2 linked regions of the Homo sapiens genome follow. The protein of the gene in region 2 purifies or fractionates together with the protein of the main gene of each other region. This does not show direct contact. Each region holds a gene or a part of one and is shown on either strand. Other genes may lie near its edges.

Region 1 (4,107 bases), on a different chromosome or scaffold from region 2:
TGGCTGTGGACACCAGAGAGTAACACAACACAGGATGATTCAGGATGTGCTTATTGCACAGATAAATGTTGCTGACGTTTCAGGGGCAACATGAGACTCATCTCTGGGTATGCCAGTGTAGCCTTGAATACAGGATCCCGGGCAGCAATAACACAAACCAGGAATAAGAACTCTCAAAATATGGAATTGGAGAAAATTTCTTCCATGTGATTCTTCCTAAAGAATGTGGGAGATCACCTGAGCCTCAGGAGGTCGAGGCTGCAGTGAGCTGCGTTCACGCCCCTGCACTTCAGCTCGGGTGACAGAGTGAGACTTGTCTCAAAAAAATAATAATAGGCCATGCATGGTGGCTCACGCCTTTAATCCCAGGACTTTGGGAGGCCAAGGCAGGCGGATTGCTTGAGCCCAGGAATTCAAGACCAGCCCTGGCAACATGGAGAAACCCCGTCTCTACTAAAAATGGTAAAATTAGCCAGCGTGGTGATGCGCGCCTATAGTCCCAGCTACTCGGGAGGTTGAGGCGGGAGGATCACGTGAGCCTCCTGAGTAGGTAGGACCACAGGCACGCACCACCATGCCCTGTGAATTGCAATTCAGAGGCATTGTGGCTATTGATCCTTTTTGTATCAGTATGTAATTTTAGTCAAATTATTGAACACTTCTGCATTCTTCTCAGGAACAAAATTTGAAAGTTTTTATCACCAGGCCTGACACATAGAAGGCACTCAATGAATGTTGGTTCTCCTTTTCTATCTGCATAATTTCGACTCCCCAGGGCTTCTCTTTTCCTGCTAGCTGATGTTTGTCATGTACTGTGCTCTCCCAAATCAGCTCAGACCCGTATCTTTCCCTCAGAATGACTTTGTGGTGCTGAGTGTCTACTGAAAACAGAACCTTAATGTTGCTCAGAGCTAACTTCCCTAGGGGACAAACTCATGCTCTCCAAAGCAAGGAAGGACCAAATTCCAGTCGAGGCCTGAAAAATGCTTGCCAGTTTCTGTTCAGTGACAGCATAGTTAGTCCTCAGGTTTTGCATCTGTGAAGCATGGATGGAGAAAGAACTGTCTCTTAGAATTTCACACATCTCACAAAAGAGTAAGATGCTCTTGTTACTAAGCTTGTGCTATATCTGCTTTGGGAGGGAATATATTCTTACAAATTAAAAAAACACAAAGCCAATGGCAAGATTCACGATGCCTGCTAGGGACTGGACCTCTGCCCCCTGTCTCTCCGGACCAACAGGTGCCATGGTCCTCTTGATCTCCTGTGCCTGACCATCCCTGCAGTGAAGATGGCCAGGCCAACCCTGACTCCAGGGGCTCTAGGTCTCCATGTGAAGTGGTGACCATGAGCCCTCCGGGTGAGAGCAGTCTGCCTTTCCCCACTCTGAATGAAGAACTGCCCAGGGCTTGCCAGACACACACCTCAAGTTACCATAGGTCTAGAGTTTAATTACAGATTATGTTTATGAAACATGCTGGCTGGGAAGTCCTCTAAAAGGGAAGAAAGTATTTCAGGTCATACCTAAAGCACTTCTCCTAATGGTGGCTGAAATTCAGACCTTGACATTTTGAAGGCCCACTGATCAGCTGTCCTAGCTGGGCCCCCTTGAATTTTTCTCAAACCTGTCTCTTAATACGTTATTTGGTGTTTTCCATGTTTGCTGTTAGTTATCTCATACCTAAAGGGCTATTATCATTATTAATATTTTTATTTTTTGAGCCAGAGTTTCGCTCTTGTTGCCCATGCTGGAGTGCAATGGCGTGATCTTGGCTCACTGCAACCCCTGCCTCCTGGGTTCAAGTGATTCTCCTGCCTCAGCCTCCCAAATAACTGGGATTACAGGGATGCACCACCACACCCAGCTAATTTTGTATTTTCAGTAGAGATGGGGTTTCACCATGTTGGTCAAGCCGGTCTTGAACTCCTGACCTCAGGTGATCTACCCGCCTCGGCCTCCCAAAGTGCTGGGATTGCAGGCGTGAGCCACCACGCCCAGCCCTATTATTATTTTTGACAACAACAGCAAAGATCTGCCCATCCGACTGCAGGAATTTAATACACAGCCTTTGTCAGTGGTAGAAATTCTATCACTGTATGACTCATGAGTACATAACAATGTGCTATACCATACTTCCTCTTTGAGGGATAAAGCCCCTGCACTCTAAGGGAGGATTTCATTATGCATTTCTCTTATATCACCAGAAAATTATTTAGTGGAAGACAGTTTAATATTTGACAGCTTTGAACCATTTTTTTTTCTCTTTCAACCAGTCTTTTTACATTGTCTGCTTAAAAACAGGAAACCACATATCTCCACCCCAGCACAACCCACCATCCACCAGCACAGACCGTATCATTTTGGATCTACAGTCTTTTTCTTCCAAGCCTGGCCAGGTGCCTGCTCCTACTTTGCAGGAAACCCCTCCAGGCACTCCCGGTGCGTGTTCTCAGAGCCCTTCTGAGAATATTCAGGATTGCACTTCCTGGGCTGCAGCGCACCCTGTACCCTCCTTTTTTAAGCCTCCTCCCCTGAGTCACTGCTACCCTTCCCTCCTCTAACTTCCCCTTCTCTGCAGCCTCCTTAGCAATTTCTTATCATAAAGTTTGTTTTAAAGAAGAACTGCCCCTCTAAAAAAATAATAAACTGTCGAGGGCGGTAGCCCCGTCTAGAGGTTTCCGACTTTGCTCTGTGCCCACCTGAAGCCTCCCCAGCCCGAGGTATTTGAACTTACATTCAGTGCTTCACGTCTCTGTCCGGGGTGCCTCTGTCTCTCAACTCTGACTTCTGAGTACTGGCAGTTAGAACAGGAAGGAAGTCAATGAGAAAAAAAAATGTTTTAGACCTACTTGAAGAGGAAACCCTGGGCTGTCTCAAATCCTGTTCCTTTGCACTGCCTATCTCTTGATCAGCCAACTTGAGCAGCATTCTTGTCAATTAATGGCACATGTGCGAGCATGACAGCCCGTGTGACGTGGAGATGCATGAATGTACACGCAAGAGTGTGGAGCCTATAGCTATGGGTATTATGAATAATTGTGAGGGTATTTCTGATAATCAGGTCATTGCAGTGCATAAGCCTATGGAGGTAAGGAGCCTGAAACCAGTAGCAATAAATTCACATCGGCTTTACTTTGTACCACTCACTTCTGTTCCCACTGGGTCCCCGCCAGCTTCATTATCAACCAGATACGTTGAAAGTTTGCTGGCAGTGAATGTAGAGTGCTAAGAAATGATGATTGTTAACTGCATATACTACGGTCCTAAATTTAAAAATGTGTCCTTAAACAGATTTTTGGAGTTTTGTTGGTTATAATTTCAAGACGTAGCTTTGTATTGCACTACAAACAGTCAAATATTGTTTTTAATAGTTTTGGCTGATTTTTCTTCAAATGAAACAAACAAGCAAGCGAAAGTACTGTCTTTGATGAAACCTAGGAAAGAAATTACAAAAGGAAGTAAAACTTCATTAATTCATAGTCTTCCAACTCAGAATTTGTGACAACTTAACAAGTGCCAAAATAGACTTTGTACCATATTTGAGGAAATGGTTTATGAAGTAATTTAAATGGGAACAAGTCTCGGAGGCCATGTTTAAACCATCTGAGGAACAGTTTTTAAGCAGCCAAGTCACATTCATGCTGTATATTCCCGTAGCTGTTACCAATAATAAATGCTTATTTAGGTTAATATTTCAATATTCAGTATTTACACTACATCAATATATTTAGATCTGACTAAGCACACAAATTTGGAGAAACTGACGTTTATTTTGTTTTCACCTAAATGTACTGCATCTTCTTCATTTCCCTTTGTAAATTGATACCACAGGGTTTGCCTTCTACTTAGAGTCAATGAAATCGGAATAATCAAGGGAGTCATTTCACGTGAGAAGAGATTAGCCTAGAAAAATATGAAAAGGAAAATAGTATATAATTAAAATGAGCAAAAATACTAAAAGCCTAATACCACTTTATTCTATAAATTTTAAAATAGCATAGACAGAATACAGCCCTTGAAACAATGTACATAACTTTATTGTAAAAACAAAGCAAACCCTAATTTACACAGAAGGCAGTAACTTACACATTCTATAGCTCTGCACC
Region 2 (3,500 bases):
TGGAGAGTGGGGAGGTTGCTCTGCCAGGGAGCTTGAAGGGGAAGGTGTCAGGGGTGTTGGGGTGTTTACCTCCTCCAGGAAGCCTGTCCAGGTTGCTCCCACCCATCCTGACAATTAGGGACCATGGCTCAGCCCAATTCTGGTCAACAAACATGTCCTGAGTATTCACTCTGCTACAGATGGGCGGGTCAACCAGGTCAACTCAGTGTCTGGGGTTTCCCAGTTTTGTAGGCTCACTTCCTGCTCATTACTGGCCTTTCACTACGGTAGTTGTTAACCTTTTCTTGCAAATCTCCTTTGATGGGGAGTTTACCACCTCTTGAGGCCACACAGTTCATGTTTGGATAGCGCTGATTGCCAAAGGCATTCCTGACATCCCATCAAAATCTGTCTCCATGAATTTTTTACCCACTCATCTTTGATTCAGTGGGTAAAAGCCATATCCAGAAGCCATTTCCAGTAAATCTATCTCTGTCCTGTTCTTTTTTAAAGCAACAGACTTAATTTTTTTTAGAGCAGTTTTAGGTTGAGCAGAAAGCACAAAGTTCTCATATACCCACTCTCTCACGTTTTCCCCTATTATTAATATCTTACATTAGTATGATATATTTATTACATCCCAGTCCTATTTTTACAGCCCTTCAGATGTTACCTGCAACCACCCAAAAGCTGAAGAACCTCAGTGTCTTAGGGGTCTTGGTATTTGGATCTCTCCCCTTCCTTCACTATCTCACCTGGTCATACTTCTAGTGGTCACTGTGTCTCTGAAATAAGTGATCTGAGGTGGTCGGACCGGGGTACCAGGTAACAAGACTTGCATTTGTGCTGCCTGAGATTGAGTTGCCTTTTTCAGCAGCTGCATTACACTGTGGGATCACCTAGGGCTTGTGGTGAACTGAGATCCCTGGGTCTTTTCCCTTTACTTCCTTTGTATTTTCTTCAAACCAGTTGTATACATTTACTTTTTTATTATAAGAGTAATAGGATCACATAAAAACTTTGGAAAATAGGGGAAAATATCTCCCTAATGCAACTGTTTAACCCTTTTTTTTTGAGACGGAGTCTCACTCTGTTGCCCAGGCTGGAGTGTAGGGGTGTGATCTCGGCTCACTGCAACCTCCACTTCGCAGGTTCAAGTGATTCTTGTGCCTCAGCCTCCAGAGTAGCTGGGATTACAGGAGTGCACCACCACACCCAGCTAATTTTTTGTATTTTTAGTAGAGACTGGGTTTCACCATGTTGCCCAGGCTGGTCTCAAACTCCTGGACTCAACTGATCCGCCTGCCTCGGCCGCCCAACATGTTGGGTTTACAAGTGTGAGCCACTGTGCCTGGCCCACAGCTGTTTTTGGTTTATGTCCTCCCATGTCTTTTCCACATTAATTACTTTGTTTATCTAGTTGTAATCAAGGGGCATATACATTTTGGTGCCAATTCGCATCTTGCATTTTTGCAGTGAATTTTTGAACCTGAATGGAAGAATTTATGTCCCTCCTTGAGGTATTGCCTAATACTGGTTTGGAACTCGGGCCTTCTCCACTTTGTGTAATTCACACACTTGCAAAGCCAACTTTTTGTACTTCTTAGTCATTACTGTCAGCGTTAAGACTGAGATGAGGGCGGAGCCCTATGTTGGCCCATTAGAGAATATCTTCAGCTTAGCTGTTCCCTGAGCCAGGGATCCTTTTAACTCTACTATCCTCCAGCCCTGAGAGCAGGGACCGCTTTCCCATCAGCCAACCTGAGGCCTGGTCTGTGGCTTCATGTGGTCTTTTATGGGACACGGCTTAGAACTTTCTAGTCGTCCTGTTAGAGCCATTTATTCAACCTGAAGATATTTCTTATTTACATAATCAAATTCTCTCTTTGTTCTAGCTAAGACTGTATGTATTTTGTGTTTGCTTATTGCCATGCCTCTGGGCAATGACAGTGAGATCTTGATTCGACCTTGAAACCGTAGACCCTGAATTAGAGGACAGCCTTACGCATACTTGTTCTTTCTTCCTCAGTACCCTGAGAATAGAAGCCTAGCCCTCCTGCAGCCCCTCACCCTTTCCCTCTCTGCATTCCCATCCATTCACTTTAATGAGCATCTGTTTACATTCCATCCATCTGCATTCTATGACGCGTGCTAAGCACCTCAGCCTGTTCTGTTTATTCTGAAAGGTATTTCCTCCAAATATTTTGATTTTTTTTTCTCCCCTTGGATCAAGAACTGGACATTTGGATCAGAGAACTGCATATACTTTTTTCTTTGGCTCCCTCCTAGAAAGACTTTCACTGAGTAATACTTTGGCATATTGCCCCGGGCTTGCATTGAAGGAAGTTATATAAGGAAGTTGTATGAAACTCACTCTTGTGGCTGAGGACAGGATGCATGACAACACACAGTGCCGCTTTGATGAGAATTTATCTCAGAACTTCCCCTTTGGATGCTGTGATTCTCCAGAGACTCTGATTAGCTTTTATATTATGTAGTTGCAAATCTGGTAACTCATGATACTTCCTTTGCTTTGGTTGCTTGGAAGGCAGTATCAAATATATGGCCTACCTTAGGGACAGACTTTATTTTCCTGTCCTGATTTTTAAGTTTCCCTCAGGCATTTATTATATTCTATTTTATGTAAGCTGCCTCAAATCCTTCTTGAATGAGGTGAGCTTATGGCATCCTGTTGCCTTTATTCTTGTAGACAACACCTTACATTTACTCTTGCAGATATCTGGTTTCTTTTAATCCCAGCCAGGTTGCTACATTTAATCTCTTGGGCATTCTGTTACCACTGTTCAGTACCTAGGATCATTTCACCTGAGTTGGAGTGAGTGTCTTCATGCTCCACCTGTCTTGGGGTCCAGGTGAAGATGATGGGAAACCTTACAATTGCCTTTGTCCACAATTAGTTTCTATAACTGGCAACAGCCCTCCTTCTCCTTAATGAGCTAGATAGGACTGAAAAAGAGGGTGTTCTCTCTTGCTTGGACAGAATTGAAACACTTCTGCCCAAAGAACAGATTCAAAATTGGGCCTTGCCGTCTCATCAGTCCTTGAAAGATTTCTGCTGTGGAGGATCTGTTGTTTTTCAGTTTTTCTGTTCTGAGAATGGAGGTGAGAGAGCAGCTTTGGCGTGGAGAGCGCCGGGAGGAATGGGCTGTCCTTGGAAGGTGTGGGTTAACAGGGGTGGGAGTCTGAGGGTGGCGGTGGGTGGAGATGGAGGATGTGGCGGCCTCACTTCCATACCTGCCCTCCCCAGAGCTCCGTGCGCCAGGAAAACGTGACGGTGTTTGGATGCTTGACTCACGAGGTGCCCTTGAGCCTGGGGGATGCAGCAGTGACCTGTTCCAAAGGTGAGGTGAGGAATGGGGGAGGAGAGGAAGCTGCAGTGTGGGGGTGGTGGTGGCGGGCAGAGGTGAAGGTGGGGAGGGATGGAATGGAGGAATGATAGGCTAGGGTTCCGGGAAGTGGGAGCAGGTGGGTGAGGGTTCTTGGGTTCTGACCCCTCCTCC

The links. The genes of interacting proteins can lie anywhere in the genome.
Region 1: the proteins of TMEM8B (region 2) and ARHGDIB purify together in Homo sapiens (affinity purification with mass spectrometry; one large-scale study listed by BioGRID and IntAct). This does not show direct contact.

The regions. Positions count from the first base shown.
Region 1 is NC_000012.12:14,958,802-14,962,908, forward strand, and holds the start of ARHGDIB (rho GDP-dissociation inhibitor 2), read right to left. Parts: upstream 2,801-4,107; 5' UTR 2,736-2,800; intron 2,480-2,735; exon of another isoform or gene 2,353-2,479; intron 1-2,352. UniProt on the Homo sapiens protein: Regulates the GDP/GTP exchange reaction of the Rho proteins by inhibiting the dissociation of GDP from them, and the subsequent binding of GTP to them. Regulates reorganization of the actin cytoskeleton mediated by Rho family members.
Region 2 is NC_000009.12:35,842,728-35,846,227, forward strand, and holds part of TMEM8B (transmembrane protein 8B), read left to right. Parts: intron 1-637; coding exon of another isoform or gene 638-673; exon of another isoform or gene 674-804; intron 805-2,980; coding exon of another isoform or gene 2,981-2,986; exon of another isoform or gene 2,987-3,069; intron 3,070-3,080; coding exon of another isoform or gene 3,081-3,158; intron 3,159-3,247; coding exon 3,248-3,341; intron 3,342-3,500. UniProt on the Homo sapiens protein: May function as a regulator of the EGFR pathway. Probable tumor suppressor which may function in cell growth, proliferation and adhesion.